4 linked regions of the Homo sapiens genome follow. The protein of the gene in region 1 interacts with the protein of each later gene in a pairwise test. Each region holds a gene or a part of one and is shown on either strand. Other genes may lie near its edges. The genes, in order: CLEC2D, TM4SF18, B3GALT5 and ENTPD8.

Region 1 (7,812 bases):
TTTAGGTTTCTAACCTGTATAATTCTCTTTCCTTTTAAAATAATTGCATTTAACTTTTTTGTTTTTTGATATAAGACAAGTCTACTGGCAACAAGTTATCTCAATGTTTCTCCAAAATAGTGGTTGTTTCTCATTCACTTTGAAGAATTTTTTTGGCTAAAGAATTCTAAGTTGATAAGGTTTTTTCTCTTAATACTTTAAATATTTGTTTCCACTGTCTTCTTGCTTGCATGGTTTTTGAGAAGAATGTAAATGTCATTTTTATCTTTGTTTCTCTACATGTAGAATTTATTTTCCTCTGGATTCTCTTATGATTTCTTAAATCTTTGATAAAGGGGGTACAGGGGCATATGTGAACTCTATATTTTTAATTCAGTATTTCTGTCAACTTAAACTGATAAAAACTAAAATCTATTGATTAAGACAAATATCTTGGGAAACATCAATGTAAAGCTTGCTGATCTCTCTAGTGTTGGGGGGAATGTTGGAGAAAAATATGCCTATTTAGCTAAGGACAAACCTAGATAAATTAACTAGAGGTGTGAATTGTATGCAAGAGATTGTGTCAGAACAGGGTTCCAATAATGAACTTCATAAGAGGTTTTAGATAACCTAAGACATTTTGAAATATAACACAACTACAGGAAATTATACAATACAAATATGTAGCTTGATTAATTATTATAAGATAAACACCTTTGTTGACTCCTGATATGGCCTAGCTGTGTCTTTACCCAAATCTCATCTTGAATTGTAGTTCTCATAATCCCCACTTGTCATGGGAGGGACCCAGTGGGAGATAACTGAATCATGGAGTTGGTTACCCTCGTGCTGTTCTTGTGATAGCGAGTGAGTTTTCATGATATCTGATGGTTTTATAAGGGGCTTTTACCCCTTTGTTAGGCACTTCTGTCTCCTGCTGCCATGTGAAGAAGAACACGTTTGCTTCCTCTTCCACCATTATTGTAAGTTTCCTGAGGCCTCCCCAGCCATGTAGAATTGTGAGTCAGTTAAACTTCTTTCCTTTTTAAATTATCCAGTCTTGGGCAGTTCTTCATAGCAGTGAGGATGGACTAATACAACTGCTAACATTGTCTAAGAAAGATCCTTGTTATGTGGCTCAGAGGCCCTCCATGTATTCTTAACTATTCACTCTCCTATCCTTCCAAGAATAACACTAATTTGACCTCTACAATAATCACTTTATCACTCCAGTTTTGCCTTTTTTCCTCCAAAACAATGCCTTTTAAGTCTATTTTAATCGATAGATTTCCTCTTAATATCATTTAAAAATATTTCTTTACATTTTTAGACAGGAATCAGAATAATTTGCTATGTTGAATTTCCAGTTACTTGGATTTTGTTGATTTCATTCCTGTGGTTTAGTTGACATGAATCTCTCCAATTGAAAGGGTAACTTGAATATGGTAGCTGGAAAGTTAAAATCAATTCTTTTAACTTTGGAAAATGATTAAATTCTGGAGATAGAATAGTAAGTTCATAAGATGACAGGTCATTTGCATCCTCTAGTGAAAAGCGAAGGAATTAAATAAAAATAACATTTTGATGCTTAATGTTTCTGGCAGTATTATGTCTGTATTTAATTGTTAAAATGTTTTTCAATAATTTTTTCCAGGTTGTCTGCATTCAAAAGAGCATTCTATTAAAGCTACCTTAATTTGGCGCTTATTTTTCTTAATCATGTTTCTGACAATCATAGTGTGTGGAATGGTTGCTGCTTTAAGCGGTAAGTGAACTGTAATCTTTATTCATCTAGAGAGAATTATACTTGTAAAAAGAAGAGGAAGAATCTGAATAATTTTGTTATTCTTTACAGCTTTTAATATATTGTCTCACTAACTGAGTTACACTCCAATAACTTTTTAAGTGGCACCAAAAATTTTAATTATGTAAATAGGGTTCACATTATTCCAAGTTTAGTGAGATGATCAGAGTCTTCAGAAGGTAGAAGACAGACCACTATTCCTTAAGAATATTGATGCAAAAATTAAAAAAAATAGTAAACTGAAAAATAGTCTCTTGTCCGATCTAGGAACATGGTTAATTTTACCTCCACAACAACCTTGTTTCATGAAAAATAGCAAAACAGATGGTTTAAAGTACACAAAACTACTAAGTGGCTGTATAACATCACAGGCAGCCTGTTCTTTCTTCCTAGCTATTTGAGCATGTTCTGGCCCTTGTTTTTTTTAGCATATGTAGCCCATCTTCCTAGAAAACAAACTCCGTTTAGTGATTGTACCCTAAAAGCAATTAGCTATAAAAATTATCTTGTACTTCAAAACATGCTTGCAGTGCATCTAATATAGACCAAGCGAAGACATAGAAAACTACAAAAGCACTTCCCCCAAACCTCATGCCAATCTGGATATCAACCTAAAATCTACCCCCTGTTACTACATTCTGAAGTAATTTCAGAGAGACCCTTCAAATACTGCTTACGTAACTTAAGAGTCAGCAATACTTGGAGCACTCCATATAACACTCTAAATAATTTCTATTCATTTGCAAATCTTTTGCTTATTATCTTTTGGCATTTTGAAACCACAGATAATATACTTTATACATTTATGAAGCAAAAATAATTTTTTTATTTCAGAGATTTAAGTCAACTAATTGTAACTATTTAAGAAAGAAAAAATTGGAAAGAGACAATTTCTGTACTCTGTAAGTACCTCAGTATTAATCAAGGGAATGTATTCTGAAATATAATTTAAATTTATAGCTCTTTTTTTTACAGTAAGCATATGAAATTGACACTTATGACTGTTTTCCTTTATTATCCATTATGTGTTTCTCTTCCTTTCAGCTAGCACTTTGGAAATGATTTCTTGTGTGGAGCCAATAGCTGGAGCCATCTTCTAATCTGGTCATTTTCTTTCTTTCTTTTTTTAAATGTGTTATTATGTATTACTTTATATCATTTTTATGTTTTATTTAACATTTAGATTGTTAGTTAACTATTCAAGTGTGGTATTTCCCCATTTAAATCGAGTTATTTAGATTGGCTTTAGTTATAAAAATTCCTAATAGAGCTTTGTAGTTATAGCTCTGGTCCCTAACTTTTTTTTTAAATTATACTTTAAGTTCTGGGATAAATGTGCAGAACCCGCAGGTTCGTTACATAGGTATACACGTGCCATGGTGGTTTGATGCACCTATCAACCCATCATCTATATTAGGTATTTCTCCTAATGCTATCCCTCCCGTTGCCCCCCAACCCTCAACACGCCTCAGTGTGTGATGTTCCGCTCCCTGCATCCATGTGTTCTCATTGTTCAGCTCCCACATATGAGTGAGAACCTGCAGTATTTGGTTTTCTGTTCCTGTGTTAGTTTGATGAGAATGATGGTTTCCAGTTTCATTTGTCTCCCTGCAAAGAATATGAACTCATTCTTCTTTATGGCTGTATAGTATTCCATGGTGTATATGTGCCACATTTTCTTTATCCAGTCTATCATTGATGAGCATTTGGGTTGGTTCCAAGTCTTTGCTATTGTGAATAGTGCCACAATAAACATACGAGTGCATGTGTCTTTATAGTAGAATGATTTATAATCCTTTGGGTATAGACCCAGTATTTCTGGTTATAGATCCTTGAGGAATTGCCACACTGTATTTTCCAAAATGGTTGAACTAATTTACACTCCCACCAACAGTGTAAAAGTGTTCCTATTTCTCTACATCCTCTTCAGCGTCTGTTGTTTCCTGACTTTTTAATGATTGTCATTGTAACTGGCATGAGATGGTATCTCATTGTTGTTTTGATTTGAATTTCTCTAATGATCAGTTATGATGAGCTTTTTATCATATATTTGTTGGCCACATAAATGTCTTCTTTTGTGAAGTGTCTGTTCATATCTTTTGCCCATTTTTTGATAGGGTTTTTTGTTTTATTCTTGTAAATTTTTTTAAGTTCCTTGTAGATTCTAGATATTAGCTGTTTGTCAAACGGATAGATTGCAAAATTTGTCTCCCATTCTGTAGGTTGCCTGTTCACTCTGATGATAGTTTGTTTTTTGTGTTTGTTTTTTTTTTTTTTTTTTTGTGCAGAAGCTCTTTAGTTAAATTAGATCCCGCTTGTCAATTTTTGCTTTTGTTGCAATTGCTTTTGGTGTTTTAATCATAAAACCTTTGCCCATGCCTGTGTCCTGAATGGTATTGCCTAGGTTTTGTTCTCAGGTTTTTATGGTTTTAGGTCTTATGTTTAAGTCTTTAATCCATCTTGAGCTAATTTTTGTGTAAGGTGTAAGGAAGGGGTCCAGCTTCAGTTTTCTGCATATGGCTAGCCAGTTTTCTCAACACCATTTATTAAATAGGGAATCCTTTCCCCCATTGCTTGTTTTTGTCAGGTTTGTCAAAGATCAGATGGTTGTAGATGTTGGGTGTTATTTCTGAGGCCTCTGTTCTGTCCATTGGTCAATATATCTGTTTTGGTACCAACACCATGCTGTTTTGGTTACTGTAGCCTTATAGTTTAATTTGAAGTCAGGTAGCATGATGCCTCCAGCTTAGTTCTTTTTGCTTAGGATTGTCTTGGCTATACAGGCTCTTTTTTGGTTCCATATGAAATTTAAAGTTTTTTTTTTTTTAATTCTGTGAAGAAAGTCAATGGTAGCTTGATGGGAATAGCATTCAATCTATAAATTACTTTGAGCTATATGACTATTTTCATAATATTGATTCTTCCTATCTATGAGCATGGAATGATTTTCCATTTGTTTGTGTCATCTCTTATTTCCTTGAGCAGTGATTTGTAGTTCTCCTTGAAGAGGTCCTTCACATCTCTTGTAAGTTGTATTCTTAGGTATTTTATTCTCTTAGTAGCAATTGTGAATGGGAGTTCACTCATGATTTGGCTCTCTGTTTGTCTGTTATTGGTGTATAGGAATGCTTGTGATTTTTGCACATTGATTTCGTATCCTGAGAATTTGCTGAAGTTGCTTATCAGCTTAATAAGTTTTAAGGGGATGAGACAATGGGGTTTTCTAAATATACAATTCTGTCATCTGCAAACAGAGATAATTTGACTTCCTCTCTTCCTGTTGAATACACTTTCTTTCTTTCTTTCTTTTACCTGATTGCCCTGACTAGAACTTCCAATACTATATTGAATAGGAGTGGTGAGAGAGGGCATCCTTGCCTTGTGCCAGTTTACAAAGGGAATGCTTCCAGCTTTTGGCCACTCAGTATGATATTCGCTATGAGTTTGTCATAAATAGCTTTTATTATTTTAATGTATGTTCCATCAATACCTAGTCTATTGTGTGTTTTTATCATGAAGGGGTGTTCAATTTTATCAAAGGCCTTTTCTGCATCTGTTGAGATCATCATGTGGTTTTTGTCATTGGTTCTGCTTATGTAATGGATTACATTTATTAATTTACATATATTGAACCAGACTTTCATCCCAGGGATGAAACTGACTTGATCGTGGTGGATAAGCTTTTGATGTGCTGCTGGATTCGGCTGGCCAGTATTTTATTGAGGATTTTTGCATTGATGTTCATCAGGAATATTGGCCTGAAATTTTCTTTTTTGTTGTATCTCTGCTAGGTTTTGGTATCAGGATGATGCTGGTCTCATATAATGAGTTAGGGAGAATTCCTTCTTTTTCTATTGTTTGGAATAATTTCAGAAGGAATGGTACCAGCTCCTCTTCGTACCTCTGGTAGAATTCGGCAGTGCATTTGTCTGGACATGGGCTTGTTTTGGTTGGGTAGGCTATTAATTACTGCCTCAGTTTCAGAACCTGTTATTGGTCTATTCAGGAATCTGATTTCTTCCTGGTTTAGTCTTGGGAGGGTGTATGTGTCCAGGAATTTATCCATTTCTTCCTTGCCTGGGTATCACCAGCAAAGGCTGAAGAAAAGCAAAGATTGCTGCCTGCTCCTTCCTCTGGAAGCTTCATCCCAGAGGGGCACGCACCAGATGCCAGCTGAGCTGTCCTGTATGAGGTGCCTATCAACCCCTGCTAGGAGTTGTCTCCCAGTCAGGAGGCATGGGGGTCAGGGACCCACTTGAAAAGGCAGTCTTTCCCTCAGAAGAGCTCGAGCACTGTGCTGGGAGATCCACTGCTCTTTTCAGAGCTGGCTGGCAGGAATGTTTAAGTCTCCTGAAGCCGTGACCACAGCCACCCTTTCCCCCAGGTGCTCTGTCCCAGGGAGATAAGAGTTTTATCTATAAGCCCCTGACTGGGGCTGCTGCCTTTCTTTCAGAGATGCCCTGCCCAGAGAGGAGGAATCTAGAGAGGCAGTCCGGCTGCAGTGGCTTTGCTGCACTGGCTTTGCTGCACTGTGGTGGGCTCCGCCCAGTCCGAACTTCCCCCAGGGCTTTGTTTACACTGTGAGGGGAAAATCACCTACTCAAGCCTCAGTAATGGCGGATGCACCTCCCCTCACCAAGCTTGAGCATCTGGGGTCCACTTCAGACTGCTGTGCTGGCAGCAAGAATTTCCAGCCAGTGGGTCTTAGCTTGCTGGGCTCTGTGGGGATTGGACCCACTGAGCAAGACCACTTGGCTCCCTGGCTTCAGCCCCCTTTCCAGCAGAGTGAATGATTCTGTCTCAGTGGGTTCCAGGCTCCACTGGGGTATGAAAAAAACTCCTGCAGTTATCTTGGTGACTGCCCAAATCGCCACCCAGTTTTGTGCTTGAAACCCAGGGTTCTGGTAGTGTTGGCACTCCAGAGAATCTCCTGGTCTGTGGGTTGCAAAAACCGTGGGAAAAGCGTAGTATCTGGGCCAGATAGCACCTCACAGCACAGTCCCTCACAACTTCCCTTGGCTAGGGGAGGGAGTTCTCCCACCCCTTGTGCTTCCTGGGTGAAGCAGCGCCCCACCCTGCTTCTGCTTGCCCTCTGTGGGCTGCACCCACTTGTGTAACCAGTCCCAGTGAGATGATCCTGGTACCTCAGTTGGAAATGCAGAAATCACCTGCCTTCTGCATTGGTCTCACTGGGAACTGCAGACCAGAGCTGTTTCTAATCAGCCATCTTGCCCTCTCTGGTCTGGTCGTTTTCTTTAAATTGGTTGATACAGGAGCAGTGATAGCACAACAAATATGCACAGATTTGGGGAAAGTCATCCTGCATTATGGTCTGGTTCAAGAAATTACATTTTAATAGTTATAATTTGGTATCACCTTGTTTGTGATACCAAACCAGATACAATACACGTTTGCCTCATGTTATGATTTGTTATTCAGATTACACCAGTTATTATTCATAACTAAGAGTGATTTCTCATCTCACAAGAGCCAAATCCAAGGATAATGGTGCCAATTGATAGTAATGATTCTATGAATACCCAGCATTCTGGTCTATCATAGACACTTTCAGAACCATTGAGTTGAAGGTAGAAGGTGGTTATATAATAGAAGATGAACTGGTAGCTACTAGGGGCTCAGTGACAACTATCTGGAGAGACATTCATTCATCTCGATCCCACATGAAGAGAGCATTTCTCCTGATTATATAAGAAGTGGGTCAGAAAAGCCTGTCCAGTGAAGTATTGCTGCCTTCAAAGTGTAGAAAACCTCACTAAATCTCCTTAGTGGAAGGAAGTTCACTGTACAACAACTTATTTCATATTTATGATAGTATTTAGACATATACAAGGCTTTTTCACATCAAGAAACCTTATTCACATAAGGCATCTCTATCCTGCCCTTCATTTTACCAAGTCATCTGGAGCAGCAATCGCCAACCTTGTTGGCATGAGGGACCAGTTTTGTGAAAGACAACGTTTTCATGGACTGGGGTCAAGGAATGGTTTGGGGATAATTTAAGTGCA
Region 2 (8,133 bases), on another chromosome or scaffold:
TGCAAGTATGTCTAGTAGAACACAGCTACTTCTGGGTTTCCTGGTAGCCAATGACCCCCTTCAGCGATTATTCTGCTCCCACCCTTTCTTAATTCTCGTTTCAGTGCCTGTTAGAACCTCTATGAGAGAAGGTTTCACATCGAGGAAAACGAAGAGCCAAATCAAACATTTTCATTTTTTTTTAAATTCTGCTTAAAAATCACTGGGAAGGGGAGTGGTGACTATTGGATTAAGAAACTGTAAATTTCAATGCTAGATGATATTTCCATCTCCCACCTGCAGTTCAGTCCCCCTCAAGGTTACTTTCTTTTTTTAAAAATTTATTAAGTAATTAGTTTATTTTTTATTATTATACTTTCAGTTCTAGGGTACATGTGCACAACGTGCAGGTTTGTTACATATGTATACATGTGCCATGTTGGTGTGCCGCACCCATTAACTCGTCATTTACATTAGGTATATCTCCTAATGCTATCCCTCCCCCTGTCCCCCACCCCACGACAGGCCCTGGTGTGTGATGTTCCCCTTCCTGTGTCCAAGTGTTCTCATTGTTCAGTTCCCACCTATGAGTGAGAACATGCAGTGTTTGGTTTTCTGTCCTTGCTATAGTTTGCTGAGAATTATGGTTTCCAGCTTCATCCATGTCCTCACAAAGGACATGAACTCATCCTTTTTTATGGCTGCATAGTATTCCATGGTGTATATGTGCCACATTTTCTTAATCCAGTCTACCATTGATGGGCATTTGGGTTGGTTCCAAGTCTGCTATTGTGAATAGTGCCACAATAAACATACATGTGCATGTGTCTTTATAGCAGCATGATTTATAATCCTTTGGGCATATACTCAGTAATGGGATGGATGGGTCAAATGGTATTTCTAGTTCTAAATCCTCCCTCAAGCTTATTTTCTTTCATTCCTTGAAGAGTCTAGCACCTGGCTTTCTAAATGTAGTCATTCTCTCCCAAACTGACATTGTCTAATTTTTTATTTTAGTATTCATTATAAATGATAATTCCAATACACTTCCCTTTCCATTCCTTTTCACCAGTCATCTTGTCCTCCACCTCCCTACACTACTCACTCCTAGGATCACAACTTGTGTCAGTCTGCTAGGACTGACATAACAAAACACCACAGACTGGGTGACTTGAACAAAAGACATTTATTTTCTCACAGTTCTGGAGGCCAGAATTCCAAGGTCAAAGCAGATTTGTAAGTTATGTGCCAAATCTCAAAGCAGATTTGTAAATTATGTGCCAAATCTGTGTTGGCAGATTGGTTTCTCCTGGGGCCTTTCTCTCTTTGGCTAGCAGATAGCCACTTCTCACTGTGTCCTCACACAGTCTTTTCTCTTTGCACCCCTGGAATCTCTTTGTGTGTCCAAATTCCCTCTTTTTATAATCTGATTGGATTATCCCCACCATGCTGTCCTCATTTTAACTTCATCATCACTTTAAAGGCCCTATCCAAATACAGTCACGTTTGAGATTATGGGGGGTTAGAACTTCAACATGTGCATTTAGGAGAGACATGATCAGCCCATAACACACCTCCAGACTTTTTCTTCGCCTATTCCTGAAACATCTCTAAAATCTCAAATTCCAGCATCACACTTCTCAATCACTACTTCCTCTCTTTCTAGCTCACTCTGTGTGTTACCTAAAACCAGTAATTTTTCAGCCACACTGGGACACACAATTTACAAATCCAGTGCCTCTTTTACTATTTCTCACACTCCCTCACGTCCTTACTTCCCTCCTTACTCAGCTTAAGTTCCACAGTCCATCATTATAACCATTCACTTGCATACATTCTTGAATCCTTTGCCCATCCCTCTCTTCATGGTATCTGCCTGGCAAAGTCCCAATCCTGGTTGACTCCAGCTTTCTTCCTACTTGCTGGCTACACCTCTGCCACTGAACCTTACTAGGAAAAATACCCAAGTCTCCTGTCCAGTCTCACTATCCATTCACGGTCACAGACTCAAGTGGTCCCTCAGCACCTGCCACATTTCTCTAGTCTGTTCATTCTCCCACTTTCCAAGCCAACTGTTTGAACTTCTCCTCTCTTCCTTTAAACCTTTAACACCCTCTCCCCATCCTCATTCTCAGCTGATAAAATTGCCTCCTGTTTCCCTGAGAAAACAGAAGTATAATAATCAGAAGTTCCCGCTAACCACCTCCAAGCCCATTGCTATGTTCTCCTTCTGTTCTGTTGCTGACACTGACCTGCCCTGCTGCTATCTAAGGTAAGCTCCTCCATCTGTTCACACACTCCCACCCTTTCTCACCTACTCAAGGAGCCTGTGCCAGCAATCCTCTCCTTTATCTCCTTTATGGTAAATACCTACCTACCCTCCCTCATACCCCTTCCCACAACAGTATACAAATATGCTACCATTTTTTCCATTAATTTTTGTCCCTTGACTTCTACTTTTCCTCTAGCTGCTGCCCCATTTCTCTGCCCTCCTTTACAGCAAAACTCTCCAAAAGAGTTACCTCATCTATTTCCAATTTCTCTCCTCCCATTCTCTCATGAATCCACTGCAGATGGACTCTCATCTCATCTCTAACTCACCAAGAAAGCTCCTCTTATGAAGGCCACCAGTGACCTCCACGTTGCTCAACCCAATAGCCGATTCTCAGTTCTTTCGTATGATGTGCCCTTTGGCAGCATTTAACTTTGTTGATCACGCCTTCTTCTTCTTAGAAAGTCACCTTTGAGAATAAGCTCCTGATCTTCATTTCTGGCTCACTGGCCATTTCTCAGTATCCTTTCTGCCTTCCTCTCATGTCCCTAAACTCAGTCCTGGGCTGCCCAGGATTTAGTCCTTGGGTCTCTTTTCTATCAACATGCATTTCCTTAGTGTCTCATGGGTTTAAATACCATTTATATGCTGACAACTGTCACATTTATATGTCACCCAGACCTCTTCCTTGAACTTCATATTTGTATATCCAGCTGCCTAGTTGACATCTCCACTTGGATTTCTAAAAGGTATTTCAAAACTTAGCACATTCGAAACTGACCATATCATTCCTCTTCTCCCAACCCTGCTCATTCAGCTGACTTGCTCATTTCTGTTAATGACAATTTTATTCTCCCAGTTTCTCGGGCCCAAATGATGTCGTCTTTGACTTCTCTCTTTCTCTTATACCCACATCCAATCTGCCACCAATCCTGTTGGCACAAGCTTCAAAATATATCCCAAATCCAGCTTCCTTTTTTTTTTCTTTTATTATTATACTTTAAGTTTTAGGGTACATGTGCACATTGTGCAGGTTAGTTACATATGTATACATGCGCCACGCTGGTGCTCTGCACCCACTAACTCGTCATCTAGCATTAGGTGTATCTCCCAATGCTATCCCTCCCCGCTCCCCCCACCCCACAACAGTCCCCAGAGTGTGATGTTCCCCTTCCTGTGTCCATGTGATCTCATTGTTCAATTCCCACCTATGAGTGAGAATATGCGGTGTTTGGTATCCAGCTTCCTTTTACCACCTCTGCTGCTACTACCATCATGATCCGAGTCATCATTATCTCTTACCTGGATGGTGGAAATGGCTTCAGAACTCATCTCTATCTCCTCCACACCCTTTACCACCTATTTACAACACAGCAGCCAGAGTGAACCTTTTAAAACATCAAGCACAGTGCCTGCCACATAAGAGATGCTCAATGAATGCTCAACCAACAATGTTATTCTCTTCCCAATCATCCCAGGAACTCTAGTAAATATGATTTTATGCTGCTTCTATGTGACTGGAAAAAACGTCTAATGCCCAGATTTTTTGATGCACTTAGATCAAAAGCACTAGAGGGAAAAAAAACCATATCCACAAGGGGGTGCCAAGAAACCTCTTTGGAACCTGGACTGCTAGTTTCTTTCTTTCTTTCTTTCTTTCTTTCTTTCTTTCTTTTTTTTTTTGAAACAGAGTCTTACTTTGTCACCCAGGCTGGAGTGCAGTGGAACGATCTCGGCTCACTGCAACCTCCGTCTCCCAGGTTCAAGTGATTTTCCTTCCTCAGCCTCCAGAGTAGCTGGGATTACAGGTGCCCAGCACTATGCCAGCTAATTTTTGTATTTTTAGTACAGATGGGGTTTCACCATGTTGGCCAGGCTGGTCTTGAACTCCTGACCTCAGATGATCCACCCGCCTCAGCCTCTCAAAGTGTTGAGATTACAGGCTTGAGCCATTGCGCCAGCCCTACCTTTGTTTTCTTAATAGTAGGAAAAATATGCCTTTATTTCTGTTATGATTTTTCAGAGAGGTAGAGATAATAGATGCAAACTCTTGGAAGGAAAGCTGTACTGATCTAACCAAGATATTTTGTTTTTCTCATCCACCAGTCACTTTCTCAGTCCTTTCTTATCCCTTGCAATTTGAACAAAGCTTGGTGAATAGTGTGCACACAAAAAGCACACTAGGTGAAAGACAGATACATAAAAAGGGTAAAGTCAGGATATTTTAACAAACCTATCAAGCTCTAAATATAAGCCTCCTTGGTAGTTTTCTCTTTAACCCTCTCTCCACTGTTGGATGAAATTTGCTGCATTCAATTCCAGTTCCCACCCCAACTTCCTTCTTAACACAAGGTCAGGGTTAAGCCTTCGGTGCTTTAATCCAGAGGAAAATTACTTATTTTAAAAAGCAGTGAAAAACACCGCATTCCTTTGGCACAGGATGAAGACCAGCTCAGCTCTTCAGTTGTTGATCATTGTCTATTGTTCTCCAAACAGTAAACCAGTATTTCACACTGAGATTGTCGGCTGCGGGTATATTCCAATTCCCCGTCTCCTCATGAATATGAAGTGAAGGGCTCTGACCCTGGAAGTGGTAGGTAATCTCAAAAAAAAAAAAAAAAAAGAGAGAGAGAGAGAAAAAAAAGGTCAGGTAGGAAGAAGAAAAATAGACTTTCTGTGACTGTATACTCTTGAAATCTCCCGCAGGTTCTAAGCAGGGCAAAATGGGGTCTCGGAAGTGTGGAGGCTGCCTAAGTTGTTTGCTGATTCCGCTTGCACTTTGGAGTATAATCGTGAACATATTATTGTATTTCCCGAATGGGCAAACTTCCTATGCATCCAGCAATAAACTCACCAACTACGTGTGGTATTTTGAAGGAATCTGTTTCTCAGGCATCATGGTAAGTATGAATTTGGAGACTTGGGAGAGAAGGGGGAGTTGTAATTGAGACTTACCTTGTAACTAGTAGAAGTAATGAATAATGGAAAAATCATTCTGCTAATCTTGGGTGTAGGATTTGAAAGAGGGATGGGGGTGAAGGGGCAGGTAATCTGCTGGCATTTGGGACATAGCTCTGTTTTCAATAAGCTGCTCAGCAATGCAGCCTCAGTAATGCAGGAAATTAGTCCTAATGAAAGTCTGTGGGACACTGGCCTGTAAAAACAGTATGTTCTCATGAACCCTGCATATCAATTTAAGCTATTTGATCTTCAGTGGCATTACTGTTTTCTAGAACAGATTTTCTGTCTGCACTCATGTTTTTCTAGCTTGAAGGGGCATTAGGACAGCATGAAAAAAAAGCAGAGACTTGGCTATTCAGACAAACCTGCATGTAAATCTAAGCTCTGTCATTTGTTCCATGAGACCTTCAGCAAGTTACTCAGTATCTTTGAGCCTCAGTGTTCTAATGTGAAAAATGTGAATAATGGCATTTACTTTTAAAGATAAAATATATATAAAGTGCCCAGGAGAGAGACTGACATGTAGTAGATAGCCAGTGACTGTTGTAATTATGATTATTAAAGAATGAGCTGTGTCATCATTAAAATAGTCCTACATTAGACCCTAATAATGGAGGGAGTTTTTGAAAAGTAAATTGAATTATCAATGGCAAGAATCCATGAACGTTTTCCTGATGACTTTGTGTTCTTTAAAAATAAACAAACTGAGAGTAAATCATGTTGGCAACTCAGAGGAAAAGACAATTTCCTGGTCAAGTCATTTCTAAAAATAGTGCATTATGGACTGTAAGCTAATCAGACCACCAATAATGTAGAAGAAAATTCATTATAATCTATTTCTACATCTTTTAGGGGTTTTTAATTATTATATTTGAATAGCTGTGTTGTAAAGCAATTTTCATTTAGTTATTCATTTTGCACATTAAATTAATAAACTTTAAAATATTAATATCCAATGCTATTGATGTTGCTATGAAATAAGTACATAACTAATATTGGCTGCACTACAAATAAATGTCAGTCTTTTCGGGAAGAGTTTGGTATAATATATCAAGATCCATGAAAATGCTTATGTCGTTTGACTCAGTAATCCTACATCTCATCATTTTTTCTGAGGAAATCATCCAAAATAAGGGAAGAGCTATGTGTGCAGATGTTTGTGGCTGCATTGGTATAATAGTAAATAACTAGAAGAAGCATCTTACAGAGAAGTAGCAAAATAAATTATGGTACATTCACTTCATACAGTGGTGAAAATTATAATTATGAAGATGTAACAACGTGGAAAATGCACATTATTTCATGTTAAGTGAAAAGAGACACAATAACATTGTGGGTAAATTACTATTGCAGCTGTGTCAAATAGACATATGTGGGAAAACACCAGAAATAAATGCATGAAGACTCACGAGGGTGGTGGAATTATGTGTACTTTACCTCCATTATTCTTGACTCCTCTGTATTGCAGTTATATTTTAAAACAAAAAAAGAAGGCAGTGTCTCTTTCAACAGTTGATGCCTGAGCAATAAGACTACAGGCTCTAGGTCAAATTATCTCTATCAATATTGTAATGAAGCTGGTTACTATGCTTTGGCCTTGTCTCATCATTGTTTCCCTCAATATGCAATTGCAATAGATGGAAGAGTTGCAAGACATAACTAAGATTAGACCAGAATTTCTTTCAATCTGTCATAACTAACGATGTGGAAAGGAGGGGAATATAGGACTCTTTTGCTTATATTCCATGTAAAAATTAAAACTAGGAAAAGAAACCTGTTCTCTATTTTTTTCATCTTCCAGGAATTATTAAAATATATTACTATAACTGCATCAAATCCTTTTAGGAGAAAGGAGAAGAATATAGGTAAATAATTAAATGAACAAAAAAATTAATGAAAGCTGAAGAAATTTGGAAACTAGAAACATTGGCTACGAAGAGTAAAATAACAGTGAACTCAGCTGTGGGATTCAGTCCTAAATAGTGAGAGTAAAAAAATGGGTGGAGAATTTCCCATAAGCAATTCATGATCTGTATCTAGTCTAACCAGAAATTATAATGAAATTATAATGGTAAAGAAATACATGTTCTTTCCAGAGCTCTGGCCTTTTGCCTAAAATAAAATTTAAAAAAAGGAAATAAGATGCATTGATTCTCCCACTTTGTTGGCTTGATACAGACAAAACACATTGAAACAATTTAAACCTGAGATGGTTTGAATGCATGGGGAAATTGAAGTCACTTTAAAGAGATATGGTTTCAGATTAACTGAGCCTCTCACCTCCATTCCCAGAGGACAGTAAATGAAGAGAGGCTGGCAAACTACCAAGCCTGCTGAATGATTTTCCTTGGTTCTCCACAACTGAGTCATTGAGAAAGGCAGGTTTTGCTGCCCAGGGTGGTATTCTCCTGTCCATCCATTTACTTCTCCTTAATCATTAGCTTTTGATGGTTGCTAACCATGATAATAATAGCTAACATTTATCAGTCACTATGAATCAACCACTATACTCAAAATGTCACATATATTACCTCGTGACGATCTCTTGATACCATTTTATACAGAAGGTGTCTCAAATTCACACAGCTAGAAAGTGACAGAGCTTGGATTCAAATCCATATCTACCTGACCCCAGACTCTATGCTTGAAGACGCTGTCCTCTGATTATAAGCACAAATGTAAACTAGCATTTCATTGCTAACATTTTATGTCTTCCCTCCTATAGATGCTTATAGTAACAACAGTTCTTCTGGTACTGGAGAATAATAACAACTATAAATGTTGCCAGAGTGAAAACTGCAGCAAAAAATATGTGGTAAGAGCAACAGTTTTTTTGAGGATGGTTGAGTGGGCTCCAGCTTTCTTTCCTCTCACTCAGAAACACAAAAATATTGACAGTATTATACCCTCACTACTGTTGA
Region 3 (7,812 bases), on another chromosome or scaffold:
AGATGAAAGGTGAAGGGGTGGGTAAGATGATTTATAGAGATTTTGAGAACTAACATGGCCTTCAGTTGAAAACCAGAATTAGGAGCTCTGAGTATCGTGCAGGTGCAGTGAGATTCATTTGAAAAACAAAACAACCGGAATTTTTATATCTAATTTTGAACATCATCCCCACATCCTTAATAGAAGACATCGGAGCCAGAAGTCGTTTGGGACCAAGTTGGGTAAACAGAGTGGCTGATCATTCATTCACGCATTGAATAAATATTCTTGCAGAGATAAATAGCTCAGGCTCTGCAGCCAGATGACTGGTTGCAAATCCCAGCTTTGACAGGTACTTGTTATATGACCTTCGGCAAGTTACTTAATTTCCCTATGCCTCAGTTTCGTTAATTGAAATTGAAGAGAATAATAGTACTTATTTCATAGGGGTGGTTGTGAGGATTACGTGGTTCTGTATATAATAAAGAACAATAGAACAGTGCCAGGTATATACATGCTACTTAAGTTATAGCTATTGTTGTTATTATGACTTCTTGTTGTGTGCCAAGCACTTTACCATGCTGAGTAATAATTGTTTTGGATCAAGAATGAGGTATGGAAAGAAGGAAACAAAACTAGTTGTTTCTTATTGAATTTTAAAAAATAACATGATTTGAAAAGTAATTCCCAAAAAGTTGTGAGAAGAATATTGTGAGCAAGGGCAGAATTATTTTTATAAGATGACTAACATCAGGGGAACAATATTTAGTTTGTTATTTAAATTTTGGTCCCTGTCTTTTTTTTTGTTTAAGCTGTAGACACAGGCAGGAGCATTGCTTGAGTCCAGAAGTTTGAGACCAGCCTGGACAACATAGCAAGACCCCGTCTCTGAAAATGAAAGAGCTCTGATTTTTTATAATTATTGGAAACCATTCCTCAGTGTTCCTATTCACGTTTGCAATGCTCTCTCTCTTTTTCTTACTGTTTCTAATTTATTCATTTTTCCATAGAGGTGTTTTGGTGATCACTGTGCTTCCTAAACTCTGCAAGTTCCCTTTTTAATCTCGTTCCGTCTCCTTGTCATTGCTTGTGGCTCTGTTTTGTTGATTTCCTGTTCTTAGTTTCTTGTAGCAATAAATCATTTACTGTGAAAACTTTTAATCCACTGCTGGGAGTATATTTTCTTCCAGACTGTGGCTTCTTCACTTGTCTTTTGCACATTTCCTTTTGTTTCATTTCCTCCTTCCTTTCTGTGGTATTTATGCATATTTGCTCTGCCATTTCTTTATTTGTCAAGCATATTTAACAAGGGCAGGTTCAGCTGAACCTTTAGATAACAATTTTTTGAATTGTCCTCGATTGCTTCTCTCCTATGTGAACATCGTTTCCTTCCCAGAGCTTCCTTTGGTGTCCTGGAGATACAGTTTATCAGCTTTTCTGTGGCCTGAGGATATGAAGGAGCAGAAGCAGTGGGAATGATGGATAATCATGATTGGTGGATTTAGTCTCTATTCATTTTGATTAAATTTATTAAAATTTATAGTTTTATTAAAAGTTGCTCTCAGGATACACTCAGGTTTTGGATTGCCCCCAAATTCAGGATGTAACTTGGAGGCATTACATTTTTTATTTTTCAAATTTTGAAGTATTTCAAACATGCAGAAGTGAAATAATAATAGAAAAAGCATGTGTGAGTCCACATCCCAGCTCTATTGTGTCCTAACACTTGGCCATACTTGCTTAGATGTAGAAGACAATAGGAAAGCATTGTTGAAGCTCCCTCTGTCCCCTCCCTAGTTCTCCCCATCTCCTTTCATCCCTTCTCACTATCCTGAATTATTACTGTCTTTTCCATGTGTGTTTCCACATCACTTCTATGTATAAATCTGTGATTAATTATGGTATTGACTTCAATATTTCAAGCTCTCTAAAATGGTTTCGTATGGTCCTACTGAAGCTCTTTTTGATTCATTGTTTTCAATATTTATCCATGTTGAGACATAGCTTGTATTACTCCATTTTCACACTGCTATAAAGAACTTCCAGAGACTGGGTAATTTATAAAGGAAAGAGGTTTAATTGATTCACAGTTCTGCATGGCTGGGGAGGCCTCAGGAAACTTACAATCATGGCGGAAGGGGAGGCAGGCATGTCTTACATGGCCTGAGAGAGCAAGTGAGAGAACATGTGAGCGTGTGGGAAAAACTACCATTTATAAAACCATCAGATCTCATGAGAATTCTCTCACTATCAGGAGAACAACATGGGGGAACTGCCTTTTAATCCAATCACTTCCCTCCCTCGACACTTGAGGATTACAGCCGGAGATGAGATTTGGGTGGGGACACAGAGCTAAACCATATCACAGCTGTAGTTCAAGCTTGTCCAACCTGCAGCCCAGGACGGCTTTGAATGTGGCCCCAAACAAATTCATAAACTTTTTAAAAACTTTGAGATTTTTTTAAAAGCTCATCAGCTATCGTTAGTGTTAGCGTAGTTTATGTGTGGCCCAAGACAATTCTTCTTCTAATGTGGCCCAGGGAAGCCAGAAGATCGGATACCTCTGTGGGTGTAGTTCATTCATTTTCATTGCTATGTAAAATGGTAGGCTGAGGTGGGAGGATCTCTTGAGCCCAAGAGTTTGATACCAGCCTGGGCAACATAGCGAATCCTCATCTCTATGAAAAAAATAAATAAATAAAAAATAAAAAATTACCCCAAGCGTGGTGGCATGCACCTGTAGTCCTAGATACTTGGGAGGCTGAGATGGGAGGATTGCTTGGGTCCAGGAGTTTGGGGATGCAGTGAGCCATGATCAATCCAATGCACTCTAGCATGGGCAACAGAGCAAGACCTTGTCTCTTAAAAAAAATTATATTGTAGGATTGTACTACAATTGGCTCAGCTATTGTTTTGTTAATGGACGTTTAGATGATTTTCATTTTTCATATAAAAATGCTATAATAAACATTCTTATACATATCTCCTTTGCATACATGTTAGAGTGTACTTTAGAGTACATACCTAGAAAAGATGCATTGGGTGAAAAAGCATCTTTCCTAGATACTGAAGAATGTTTTCCAAGGGATTTGTACCAATTTATGCTCCTACATACTATACCTCTAACTCAGTTCCTGTTTTTCCACAGCTTCCCCAACCCTTAGAATTATTGGATTTTTAAATTTTTGTTATTGTCATGAGTATGAAGTAGAATCTCAGTGTTTTAAGATGCATTTTCCTGATTCTAGTAAAACTAATCATCTGTTTGTATATTATGTATCTCAGCCATTTGGATTTCCTCTTCTGTGAATGGCCTGTTCATGTATTTTGATCATTTTTCATTTGGAATGTCTTTTTCTTATAGATCTATAGAAGCTCATTTAGAAATTCTAGATCCTTAATTTTAGTAATATACATTGCAAATATCTACTCCGTCTGTGTCTTGTATTTTTACATTTTATTGAACAATAGGTTTTCATTTTTAATTTGGTGAAATTTACCACTTTTTTTTAATGGTTTGTGCTTTCTCTTAAGAAGAAGCTTTTCATCTTATGAAATTCTTCCCCACTCTAAGGCTATAAAGATTGTCTCATATACTGTATTTCTTGCTAAAAGCCTTCAAGTTTTGCTTTTCACATTTAGGTTTTTAATCCTCCTTGGATTTATTTTTGATATGTTGTGAGTTAGGGATTCAAATTCAATTTTTTCAAATGAATAGTCAGTCCTAGGTTGTTAATTCAGTACTCCTTTTTCTGGTGATTTGTAATACCATTTGTAATACCATACTTGTGTAGATCTGTTTTGAGGCTATTTATTCTATTTTATGGTCTGCTTGGGCTGCCATAATGAGATACCATAGACTGGATGGCTAAACAACATAAAATTATTTTCTCACGGTTCTGGAGGCTGGAAGTCTGAGATCAAAGGTGCCAGCCTGATCAGGTTCTGGTGAGGACCCTCTTCAGGGATGCAGATACATCCTAAAGATTCTGTCTGTGTCCTTACATGCAGAAAGAGATTCCTTTCTTCTTATGAGGCCACCAACCCTATTGAATTAGGATCCCACCCTATGACCTCATTTAACCTTAATTACTTCCTCAAAGCTTTGTCTCCAAATACAGTCACATTGGGGTTAGAGCTTTAACACATGAACTTTGGGTGGACACAATTCCGTCCATAGCATTGGTTTATAAATCACAAGTATCTTATTGATGTAATAAGTTTTTATATATACTAGATCAAGTTAGGTCAAGTTTTCCCATCTTGTTTTGCTTTATAATGTATTTAGCTATTTTTTGCCTTTTAGTCTATGTACGAATCTGAGGTTCAGTTGTCAAGTTCATTTCCAAAATTTGTAGGTTTATTTTTGAGATCTCTGTTCTGTTTTGTCATGATGTATTTTGTTTGTTTCTGCCCAAACACCACAAGTTTTAATTGCTGTGACTTTATAATATGTCTTGGTCTGGGAAGGTAAGTTACCACTTTGTTCTTTTCAGCCATTCTTTTTCTTTTCTTTCTTTCTTTTATTTTTTTTAGGCAGAGTCTTGCTCTGTCACCCAGGCTGGAGTGCAGTGGTGTGATTTCGTCTCACTGCAACCTCTGCCTCCCGGGTTCAAGCAATTCTCGTGCCTCAGCCTCCCAAGTAGCTGGGATTACAGGCGTGTGCCACCATGTGTGGCCAATTTTTATATTTTTTGGTAGAGACGGTATTTTTGGTAGAGACAGTATTCACTATGTTGGCCAGGCTGGTCTCGAACCCCTGGCCTCAAGTGATCCTCCTGCTTCAGCCTCCCAGAGTGCTGGGATTACAGGCGTGAGCCTGCCCGGCCATAATATTCCTAATCTTCAGACCTTGTTTGAATTTTTCCAATTTTCCTGTAATGTCCTTTTTCTGGTCCAGGATCCCAGCCAGAATCCCATATTGCATTGGGTTTTCATGTTGCTTTATTCATGTTCAATCTGTAATAGTTCCTCAGTCTTCTCTTTTGTAAACTTGACATCTCAGAAGAGTTCAGGGTAGTTATTTGTAGAGTATTCCTCAATTTGGAGTTGCCTGATATTTTCTTATATGCAGACTGAAGTTATGCATTTTTGGTAATAATACCACGGAAATTTGATAAATGTGATGCATTTTCTATTGGTTCTGATAGTTTACATGTAGAGTCTCTTGGATGTTTTATGTAGATAATTGTATTAGATATTTTGGTTATTTGTGTCTTTCTAGCACATGGGAGGATTTTGCTTCTCCCACCTCTTGAAGTTACGCAAAGCATGTGGCTTTCCCTGGCCAATGAAAAGGGAGCTAAAGGGATGTGTGCTGAGACATTGAATTGCAGGTGCATGATTTCCCAGCTGTCTTTGCTCTGCTTGTTTAAAGCAAATGTTGATATGAGCATACCATTAGATCAAAATAGCATATGATAATAAACCGACCTTTGTATGCTTGCCTTCAAGAGTAGCCTGAATTAGCAATTGATTTTGCTTATGAGAAGATAAACTTGCAGTGTTAAGACCCCGAGATTTTGGGGTTGTTTGTGGCATAACCTAGCCTATGTGGTCTGACATAATAATCATATTGTCTATAAACAAGAATAGCTTAGTTTCTTCTCTTTTATTTCTTATATACATCTTTTCTGGTCTTATTCCATTGGCTGGGACCTCAAGGGCAATGTTTAATAAAAGCAGTGACAGGTTAGGTACAATGGCTCATGCCTGTAGTCCCAACATTTTGGGAGACCAAAGCAGGAGGATTGCTTGAGGCCAGAAGTTCAAGACTAGCCTGGGCAACATAGTGAGACCCTTTCTCTGAGAAAAAAAAGTGATAATGGACATCCTTGTCTTCACCTTCACCTTAATGGGAATGCTTTTAAGTTTCACTATCAAATATGTCTATTTTAGATATTTGATGGACACCCTTTGTCAAATTAAGAAAGATCTCTTTTTTATTATGAATTGGTGCTGAATTTTATTGATTCTTTTTTGATGTAGCTTTTGAAATAATCATAGACTTTTTCTTCCTTTAATTTACTGGTATAATTTATTAGTGCATTTCTTGTGTTTTATTTAGGACCTTTCCATTTGTATTCAAAAGAGATATTGTTCATAATTTTCTTTTCTTTTACTATCCTTGTCTGAAGTTGTGTATTTTTTCTCTGTCTCTTGGAAATGGCTTGCACAAAAAGGTTTTTTTTTTTTGTTGTTCCTTTAAAATTTGGTAAAGCTCACCTCTAAATCTTTCTGGGTTGTTGCATCGTAGAGTGGAGGCAGTGGACTTCTGATGACAGATTCATTGTTTATTTAGGTTCTATTTCCTTTTGTTTATTCAGGTTCTATTCCTTTTCAATGAACTACATTAATTCATGATTTGCTGGAAAATTATTTCAAAGTTTTGAAATTTATTGGCATAAAATTGTTCATAGTATTTTCTTATGATTTAACATTTTAAAAATTTCTCTGTTGCAGACCTTTTTGACTTTAAATATGATTTATTTCTGTCTCTTTTTTTCTTGTTAAATCTTGGTAAAGTTTTATTTGCTTTATTAGTTTTTCTGAAAGAAACAGTTTTTGAGTATGTAGATAATTTCTTTGGTTGTTTTATTCTGTGTATCAATGACTTGATAGTTATATCCTCGTCTTTTTCTTTTTCTCACCTTTCAAATGTTTATTGCTCTTTTTTCGTAGCTTCTTGAAGTATATGCTTAATGTATTCTACATATTTATTCTTTTGACCTATAACTTTATTTCTAAATAATTTTTAATTGCTGTCCACAGGTTTTGATATGTTGGTCTTTCATTTTTATTTGGTTTAAAATATCTATTATGATTTCCTCTTTAAGCCATAAGTTTTTTTGAGGCCTACTTTTGAAAGTTTCAAAACACACATTTTTCTCCAGTATGTTTTTATTGTTGATTTTTAATCCCCATAAGTGGTATGTGTGCAATTGAAAAGAATGTTTACTTTCTGTTTCTGTATGGTTTAATAAATGAAGTTTATTAATTTTCATTGTCAAATCATTATTACTAATTTTTGTTCTATTTGGTTACACGTTTCTAAAAGAAATGTGTAAAAATAAAATTTATTCTTAGAATGCTATCAATTTTTTGTTATATGTTTTGATGCTGTGTTGTTGAAGCTTACAAGTTCTAAAGATCTATATTATACTATCTATATTATAATAATTTATGGTGAATTGCTATGTAGTGTTGATACTTTTGGCTTGAATTCTTTTTGCCTTACATAGCTGCATTAGGGGTTGGTTTCTTTTTCTTTTCTCCCCCTAACTAATAGCAAGTATCTTTCCTGCCTATCGTTGTAGCTTTACTTTGGGTGTGTCATTTGAACTCGCATATAGGTAGATTTTTTCCAACCTGCTTATTGTGTTTCTAAGCAAGTGAACTTAATCCATTTATAATATACATAATTTCTGAGGCCTTTGGATTTAATTCTTTTATCTCATTATGTGTTTTCTTTTTCATACCTTTTTTCTTTAGTTCTCTTTTCTTCATTTTTTCGTCTCCTGTTGGATTGATACAGTTTTCTACATTCCCATTTTACTTCTTTTGCTGGTTTTCAGACTGTAGACTGTATATATATTTTTAATGATTATATTTAATCTTGAATCATGTATTTTAACGATATATAAACATTTTTGGTATTCCTGGTATTTTCTCTATCATGACAAGGACCTCAGCACAATTTAACTAACAACCTTGTTCCCTTATTTTGTAACTATTCCTTAGTTTGAACTTGTAAATTTTCTTTTCTTTTCTTTTCTTTTCCTCCCTCCCTCCCTCCATCCTTCCTTCCCTCCCTCCTTCCTTCGTTCCTTCTTT
Region 4 (8,544 bases), on another chromosome or scaffold:
CAGCTGTTCCAAGTGACTGGGTCACGCTTCACATCGATGTGCAATGTCTCCTGCCACCTGCCTGGATGCACTCTCGTGACTACCTGGCAGGCTGGGAACAGCACGGGGGAGGCCCCCGCCTGCCCCAGCGACCTGCCTGCCCTGCTCTCAAGTGCAGACCCCCAGGTCTGCACTTCCACGCTCACTACACAACCCCAAGTGGCCCCCCGGGTGGCCCCGTGGCCGGATGTGCACCCAGCAGAGCAGCCACCCTTGAGACCTGGGGTGTGGTCTGGGGGCTGTGTGGAGACCTCCCGCCAGGGTGCAGGAGTGTCTAAGGGCAAGCAGAGGTGTGATTCCTGTCTGTAAGGTAAAACCCCCGTGAGCAGGAATCAATAATGTAGACATGATCGGAATGGTGGAGGGAGCTGTGGCGGTCACACCCTTGCTGTTAGCATTGCCTCTGTGGGGGCAGGAGACAGCAAACATAAAACCTGTCCCTGAAAGGGGCAAGATGGCCCCGATGGCTCCCTGCACCTGTCCTGGTGCCTGCAGGCAGGCGGGTCAGCTCCCCTCCCGCTGCCAAATCTCCCACGTCTCTGTGCGCTCTGTCACCCCTGCTTTCTGGCCTGAGGGCTGGGAAGGGAGGTCTGGGGAGCCCAGGAGCTGAGAAGTACCCAAAAACCACCCCCAACGCCCCCCAACCCTCAGGCGTGCCTGTGAGTGTGTCTGTGTGTCTCACTCTGACTCACCCAGACAACTGACTTCAGCAGCCAACCTTGGTCATTCCCAGAACCACCACTGGGGGGCATACGTGTGGCTAGACTGGGGGCGCCCGAATATCTGTCTCTACAAAAAGTAAAAAAAAAATTAATGGGGTGTGGTGGTGGTGCGTGCCTGTGGTGTCAGCTGCTTGGGACGCTGGGGCAGGAGGATCACTTGAGCCCGAGAATTCAAGGCTACAGTGAGTTAAGATTACGCCACTGCACTCCATCCTGGGTGACAGAGCAAGACCTTGTCTCAAGAAAAAATTTTTAAATGAGTAAAATTTTAAAAAACAGATTTTGTCAGTCTTTCTGTCATTTCAACGCCTTCTCAACCTTGGTGTCTGCTGATGGCCTCTTCCCTGCTGGTCAGGATTCTCACAGTTCTTTGGGTGTGGAGGAATTCTGGTTTGTAATTTTTTTTTTTTTCTTAGAGTCTCTTTCTGTTGCCCAGGCTGGAGTGCAGTGGCACAATCTCGTCTGACTGCAACCTCCACCTTCCGGGTTCAAGTAATTCTCCTGCTTCAGACTCCCAAGTAGCTGGGATTACAGGCACCCACCACCACGCTTGGCTAATTTTTCGTATTTTTAGTAGAGACAGGGGTTTCACCATGTTGACCAGGCTGGTCTCGAACTCCTGACTTCAGGTGATCCACGTGCCTTGGCCTCCCAAAGTGCTGGGATGACAGGCATGAGCCACCACGCCTGGCCTGGTTTGTAATGTTTTGAATCTTACTTAATATGAGACTCGGAGTCTTCCTTTTATCCTATGGTGAACATTGCTGTTTTAGTTTCAGCCTCAGTGGCTATTGGTCCAAGGTCAGTTTTTCTCCAAGATTTTGGGGCACCCTCTGGTCTAGTCACACGTATGCCCCCCAGTGGTGGTTCTGGAATGACCAGGCTGGTCCTGAACTCCTGGCCTCAAGTGATCCTCCTGCCTTGGCCTCCCAAAGTGCTGGGATGACAGGTGTGAGCCACCATGCCCGGCCTGAAGACTTTAAAGTAGCTATTATAGCGGTGCCTAACTGAGCCATCGTGAGCACTTAAAATGTCAGAAGAGAAAGTCTCAGCAAAGGCTGGGCCCAGTGGCTCACGCCTGTCATCCTAGCACATTGGGAGGCCGAGGCGGATGGATCACTTGAGCACAGAAGTTTGAGAGAAGCTTGGGCAACATGGTGAAACCCTGTTTCTACTAAAAACAAAAACAAAAACAAAAATCAGCCGGGCACAGTGGTGCATGCCTGTGGTCCCAGCTACTTGGGAGGCTAAGGAGGGAGGATTGCTTGAGCCAGGGAGTTCACAGCTGCAGTGAGCTATGATCCTGCCACTGGGCCCGGTGGCTCACGCCTGTAATCCCAGCATTTTGGGAGGCCGAGGTGGGCGGATCACCTGCGTTCAGGAGTTCGAGACCAGCCTGGCCAACCTGGTGAAACCCTGTCTCTATTAAAAATACAAAAAAATTAGCCGGGTGTGGTGGCGCATGCCTGTAATCCCAGCTACTGGGGAGGCTGAGGCAGGAGAATCACCTGAACCTGGGAGGCAGAGGTTGCCGTGAGCCTACGTTGTGCCACTGTACTTCAGCCTGGGCAACAGAGTGAGACTTCGTCTCAAAAAAAAAAAATTTATATATATGTATATGTTTTAACTGAATAAAATGAAAATACAACATATCAAAAATTGAGAGAGATAGCTAAACAGTGCTTAAGAGGGAAATTCATAGCACAAATGCTTACATTAGAAAAAAAGAAAGGTTCAAGTCAATAATCTAACCTTCTGCATTAAGAAACCAGAAAAGGAGGAGCAATATAAGCTCAAATCAAGCAGAAGAAAGGAAATACAAGTAAGAGCAGAATTAAAATAATTCAAAAACCGGCCGGGCGTGGTGGCTCACGCCTGTAATCCCAGCACTTTGGGAGGCCGAGGTGGGCGGATCATGAGGTCAGGAGATCGAGACCATCCTGGCTAACACGGTGAAACCCTGTCTCTACTAAAAATACAAAAAATTAGCTGGGCGTGGTGGCACATGCCTGTAGTCCCAGCTACTCAGGAGGCTGAGGCAGGAGAATGGCGTGAACCTGGGAGGCAGAGCTTGCAGTGAGCTGAGATCCGGCCACTGCACTCCAGCCTGGGCAACAGAGAGAGACTCCGTCTCAAAAAAATTAAATTAAATTAAATTAAATTTAAAAATTCAAAAACCAAAAAGAAAAAATTATGAAACAAAAAGCAGGTTCTTTGAAATGATGAATAAAATGGATAAACCTCTAGCTAGCAACACTGATGAGAGACACAGAGGACAAAATTACCAATATGAGGAATGGGAGGGTTAGCACTGCAGACCCTACAGACATTAAAAGGATAACCAGGAAGTACTATGAATAATTGTAGTCACATAAATTTAGCAACTTAGGTGAAATGGACCAATTCCTTGAAAGCCACAAACTACCAAAACTCATTAAATAGACAACTTGAACAATCCTATTAAGTATTAAAGAAACTGAATTTGTACTTTAAAACTTTTCTAAAAAGGAAAGTACTGGCTCAGATGGTTTTACCACCAAATTATACAAAATATTTAAAGAAGAAATTTAATACAAATTCTTCAAATCCCTTCCACAAAATAAAACAAGGACAGCTGGCTGGGCGCGGTGGCTCACGCCTGTAATTCCAGCACTTTGGGAGGCCGAGGTGGGCGGATCACAAGGTCAGGAGTTTGAGACCATCCTGGCCAACATGGTGAAACCCCATCTCTACTGAAAATACAAAAAATTAGCCAGGCATGGTGGCAGGCACCTGTAATCCCAGCTACTCCGGAGACTGAGGCAGGAGAATCGCTTGAACCTGGGAGGTGGAGGTTGCAGTGAGCCAAGTCTGCACCATTGCATTCTAGCCTGGGTGACAGAGCGAGACTCCATCTCAAAAAAAAAAAAAAAAAAGGACAACTTCCCAGACTCATTTTATAAGCCCAGCATTATCCCCATACAGAAACCAGGACTAAAAAAGAAAACTATGCAACTTTGTTGAACACAACTGCAAAAATCCTCAACAAACACATTTGACTCTTATGACCCATGGCAGCTAGTGTATAAAGTTGCTGCAAACACTGAATTAAAGAATATGCTAAACTATTGCTCCTAAGGGAAATGCAAAGTTCTGTTCCTGCAAGCTTCTGGTCACATTTTTGTTAAATGATCAATATATTAATAAAACCTTCTTTTATGTGTATTTTTGTTTAAGGGCACCTTACTTAATATGTATTGTATCACTAACATTGAACTCATGGCCAACAGCGCTAACTCTTGCACGAATGAAGCTTATCCAATGTGTGTTTTCTCTGTAAAGTGCATCTCAGCCTTCTTGCATTTCTGCACTATGCTGAGACGCCATTATAAACAGTGAAATCACCAAGAAAAAGCACAAAAATGCACACACATGACACCAAATATGCTACCAGTAAAGAGAGTCCCGATTGAGACCCCAAGAGGGTTCTTGGATCTCACACAGAAAGGAATTCACCGCCCCCCCGCATTCCCCCACCCTATTCCCCGCCCCCCAACACCCCCAGCCCCACCCAGCCCGGCCCTGGCTCCGCGCCTCCCCCAGCCCCGCCCCGCTTCAGAGGCCCGGACCCCGACGGCGGCGGCCCCGGGACCCACGGCGAGCGGGAAAGGCAGAGTGGCTGCAAATGGAAAACGACGGGCGCCGCGGGGCTGCAGGCGCTTCCGCCCCCGCCCCGGGCCTGGACCTTCGGGGTCACCTGACTCCGACCTGCCCGGGCCGGGCGGCACGGGGGGTAAAGTCCGGGCCGGGGTCAGGAGCGCGGCTGCGGGCCGTGGGGGGCGGGGTCCCGGAGTTCTGCCCCTCGCAGCTCCAGGCTCCTCCTCAGCTTCCCTCTCCTGCCTCCCACCCCCCCGGGGGCGGGGCGACCCTGGGCACCGAGACAGACCCGCGGGTGGGAGATGCGGGGAGACCCTGGGCGGGGGACCCGAGGGTGGAGTGGGCGGGGCGACCTTGGGCGCTGGCCTCAGCCTGCGGGCCCTGGAGCCAGGTGCACAGCGCATCGCCCGAGGCTGTCACCGCCCTGCCCCGCCCACCCCAGCTGTCCTGGACCCAGGGGCAGGGAGAGGCTGGACGCCAGGTGCGCGGACACAGAAGCGTCTAAGCACAGCTTCCTCCTTGCCGCTCCGGGAAGTGGGCAGCCAGCCCAGGTGAGGGTCCAAAGGGATGTCCTGGGGGGGCTGTCCTGGTCTGGGGGGCTGTCCTGGTCTGGGGGGCTGTCCTGGTCTGGGGGGCTGTCCTGGTCTGGGGGGGCTGTCCTGGTCTGGGGGGCTGTCCTGGTCTGGGGGGGCTGTCCTGGTCTGGGGGACTGTTCTGTCTGAGGGGGTGTCCTGGTCTGGGGGGGCTGTCCTGGTCTGGGGGGCTGTCCTGGTCTGGGGGGCTGTCCTGGTCTGGGGGGCTGTCCTGGTCTGGGGGGGCTGTCCTGGTCTGGGGGGCTGTCCTGGTCTGGGGGGGCTGTCCTGGTCTGGGGGACTGTTCTGTCTGAGGGGGTGTCCTGGTCTGGGGGGGCTGTCCTGGTCTGGGGGGCTGTCCTGGTCTGGGGGGCTGTCCTGGTCTGGGGGGGGCTGTCCTGGTCTGGGGGGCTGTCCTGGTCTGGGGGGGCTGTCCTGGTCTGGGGGGCTGTCCTGGTCTGGGGGGGCTGTCCTGGTCTGGGGGACTGTTCTGTCTGAGGGGGTGTCCTGGTCTGGGGGGGCTGTCCTGGTCTGGGGGGCTGTCCTGGTCTGGGGGGGCTGTCCTGGTCTGGGGGGGGCTGTCCTGGTCTGGGGGGCTGTCCTGGTCTGGGGGGGCTGTCCTGGTCTGGGGGGCTGTCCTGGTCTGGGGGGGCTGTCCTGGTCTGGGGGACTGTTCTGTCTGAGGGGGTGTCCTGGTCTGGGGGGCTCTCCTGGTCTGGGGGGGGCTGTCCTGGTCTGGGGGGCTGTCCTGGTCTGGGGGACTGTTCTGTCTGAGGGGGTGTCCTGGCCTGGGGGGCTCTCCTGGTCTGGGGGGGGGCTGTCCTGGTCTGGGGGGCTGTCCTGGTCTGGGGGGGGCTGTCCTGGTCTGGGGGCTGTCCTGGTCTGGGAATCTGTTCTGTGTGAGGGGGTGTCCTGGTCTGGGGGGCTCTCCTGGTCTGGGGGGGGCTGTCCTGGTCTGGCGGGGGCTGTCCTGGTCTGGGGGGCTGTCCTGGTCTGGGGGGCTGTCCTGATCTGGGAGTCTGTTCTGTGTGAGGGGGTGTCCTGGTCTGGGGGGGCTGTCCTGGTCTCAGGGACTGTTCTGTGTGAGGGGATGTCCTGGCCTGGGGGACTCTCCTGGTCTGGGGGGGCTGTCCTGGTCTGGGGGGGCTGTCCTGGTCTGGGGGGCTGTCCTGGTCTGGGGGGGCTGTCCTGGTCTGGGGGACTGTTCTGTCTGAGGGGGTGTCCTGGTCTGGGGGGCTCTCCTGGTCTGGGGGGGGCTGTCCTGGTCTGGGGGGCTGTCCTGGTCTGGGGGACTGTTCTGTCTGAGGGGGTGTCCTGGTCTGGGGGGCTCTCCTGGTCTGGGGGCACTGTCCTGGTCTCGGGGGGGCTGTTCTGGTCTGGGGGGCGCTTTCCTGGTCTGAGGAGCTGTTCTGATCTGGGAGGCTGTTCTGGTCTTGGGGGTCTTTTGAGTGTGGGAGAGGTTGCCCCAACCTCTTTGCCTACCTGGAGGCTCAGGCCTGGGGGTCTCAGGTGGCTACATCTTCTGGGTGTGGAGTCCCTGTGTTCCTGGCCCCTGTCACCTGTTTGTCCCTATGAGGTGGCCTATGGCCTGGGTGCTGGTTGGGGACACAGGCTGGGCCCTGTCTGGGCTGGACCGGCCTCCTGTCCTCTCTGAGCCTCTGTCATCTACCCTCCTTAAAATGGGCTTATATCCCCCGGACATACAGAATTGCGTGAGGACCCCACAGCGTGTCCCACTTTCCACGTGCCCAGGAGCCCCAGGTCAGGACCAGGGCAGCACCCGCGCCTGCCACTCAGTGTGGGTGCAACGTTTCCCGGGGGAACACGATAGGACACGGTCACATGGGGTTCAGGTGCCGGGACCTTGGCAGGCAGCCTCTGGCTTTGACCACTCCTTTGGCAGTGGTACCCGTGTGAAGTGGGGCTGTATGGGGCACAGGGTCGGCCTGGGGTAGTTTGAGAGCTGAGACCCTTGCTGGGCGTTTGGGCAGAGGAGGAGGTGGACACCTCGGCCACAGGGCTAGAGAAGCCCAGGCCCCTCAGATGGCATCCCTGGGTCCACCTCCCGACCAGGCGCCATCTGGCACCAGCTAAGAAGGTGCAGAGTCAGATTAGGGAAGCCTTGGGCTGGATTTCCAGAGAAACCGATGTTGTTAAGAAGCCTCACACTCGGCTTCCTAGGATGGCTGGCCTCACCCTGGGTTCACCCACAGCCCCTCGGCAACAGTCCCCTCAGGGCTCCAGAGAGAAACCCCCACCCTAGGAGTGCCTGGGGTGGGGGCCGCAGAGAGGAGGCAGAGCCCTGGGCCCCCAGTGCAGGCTGGAGCTGTGGCTGCTCCTGGGGAGGGTGGCACGGGAGAGGCAGGACCGAGGGGTGGGGACACAGGGTGGCCCCATCACATGGTGGGGGCAGCTCCGCGAGTCCCATCCGAGGGGGTCCGAGGGGGCTACTTGGATCCTGCTGGGGCTGTGTCCCCAGACGAGGCCTCTGCTGCCCCCCGCCCCCCTCCCACAGGGCCCTCTGATGCCCATGGCACCCCTGGCAGGCGTGGCTCCTGGGGAGTGGTCCTTGGCCACGGGAGGCGTCTGAGCCCCGGGGATGCCTCTATGGCCACGGGAGACCGTCTGAGCCCCGGGGATGCCTCTATGGCCACGGGAGGCCGTCTGAGCCCCGGGGATGCCTCTATGGCCACGGGAGGCCGTCTGAGCCCCGGAGATGCCTCTATGGCCACGGGAGGCCGCCTGAGCCCCGGAGATGCCTCTAAGGCCACGGGAGACCGTCTGAGCCCCGGGGATGCCTCTATGGCCACGGGAGGCGTCTGAGCCCCGGAGATGCCTCTAAGGCAAGTGGCTGTCCAGGGGTGCGTCTCCAGGGAGACGGGGAGCGAAGCCTCTGCCTCTGGAGGGCGGGATGGGGACACCAAGTGCAGCCTGGGTGCCCACGGCCGTCCCCCCACAGGAACCAGTACCACCTGCACCATGGGGCTGTCCCGGAAGGAGCAGGTCTTCTTGGCCCTGCTGGGGGCCTCGGGGGTCTCAGGCCTCACGGCACTCATTCTCCTCCTGGTGGAGGCCACCAGCGTGCTCCTGCCCACAGACATCAAGGTGCGTCCCCGCCGGCAGGGGAGGCCGGGCCGGGTCCACAGGTGTTGCCTCCCACTCATCCCACTGTCTCCCCAGTTTGGGATCGTGTTTGATGCGGGCTCCTCCCACACGTCCCTCTTCCTGTATCAGTGGCTGGCGAACAAGGAGAATGGCACGGGTGTGGTCAGCCAGGCCCTGGCCTGCCAGGTGGAAGGTTAGTGGGCTGTTCTGCAGCCCGGTGCTGGGACCTGCCTGTTGCTGCCTGGCTGGGATTCCCAGCTGCACGGAAAGGGTTTGGAGAGGTTCAGTGACTTGGCTGAGCTCACACGCCGGGCATGGGTGCTGGGCCGGAGCCTGCGTTCACGCGGTGGCACTCTGGGGACCTCCCTGCCTGATCCTGGTGAGCAGTCAGATTCTCATGGCCTGGCCTGGGTCTGCCCAGCATCTGCTGCCTCCAGCCCTGACCCTCTCTGGCCCCTGGTGCTCCCCAC

Evidence for each region.
Region 2: the proteins of CLEC2D (region 1) and TM4SF18 interact in binary tests that used the Homo sapiens proteins (3 or more experiments, as listed by UniProt).
Region 3: the proteins of CLEC2D (region 1) and B3GALT5 interact in binary tests that used the Homo sapiens proteins (3 or more experiments, as listed by UniProt).
Region 4: the proteins of CLEC2D (region 1) and ENTPD8 interact in binary tests that used the Homo sapiens proteins (3 or more experiments, as listed by UniProt).

Annotation. Positions count from the first base shown.
Region 1 is NC_000012.12:9,679,287-9,687,098, forward strand, and holds part of CLEC2D (C-type lectin domain family 2 member D), read left to right. Parts: intron 1-1,636; coding exon 1,637-1,747; intron 1,748-7,812. UniProt on the Homo sapiens protein: Receptor for KLRB1 that protects target cells against natural killer cell-mediated lysis. Inhibits osteoclast formation. Inhibits bone resorption. Modulates the release of interferon-gamma. Binds high molecular weight sulfated glycosaminoglycans.
Region 2 is NC_000003.12:149,330,224-149,338,356, reverse strand, and holds the start of TM4SF18 (transmembrane 4 L6 family member 18), read left to right. Parts: upstream 1-4,720; 5' UTR 4,721-4,844; exon of another isoform or gene 4,845-4,853; intron 4,854-4,918; exon of another isoform or gene 4,919-4,957; 5' UTR 4,958-4,974; coding exon 4,975-5,151; intron 5,152-7,937; coding exon 7,938-8,027; intron 8,028-8,133.
Region 3 is NC_000021.9:39,615,314-39,623,125, forward strand, and holds part of B3GALT5 (beta-1,3-galactosyltransferase 5), read left to right. Parts: intron 1-7,812. UniProt on the Homo sapiens protein: Catalyzes the transfer of Gal to GlcNAc-based acceptors with a preference for the core3 O-linked glycan GlcNAc(beta1,3)GalNAc structure. Can use glycolipid LC3Cer as an efficient acceptor.
Region 4 is NC_000009.12:137,437,690-137,446,233, reverse strand, and holds the start of ENTPD8 (ectonucleoside triphosphate diphosphohydrolase 8), read left to right. Parts: upstream 1-4,876; 5' UTR 4,877-4,948; intron 4,949-7,928; 5' UTR 7,929-7,948; coding exon 7,949-8,074; intron 8,075-8,149; coding exon 8,150-8,267; intron 8,268-8,544. UniProt on the Homo sapiens protein: Canalicular ectonucleoside NTPDase responsible for the main hepatic NTPDase activity. Ectonucleoside NTPDases catalyze the hydrolysis of gamma- and beta-phosphate residues of nucleotides, playing a central role in concentration of extracellular nucleotides.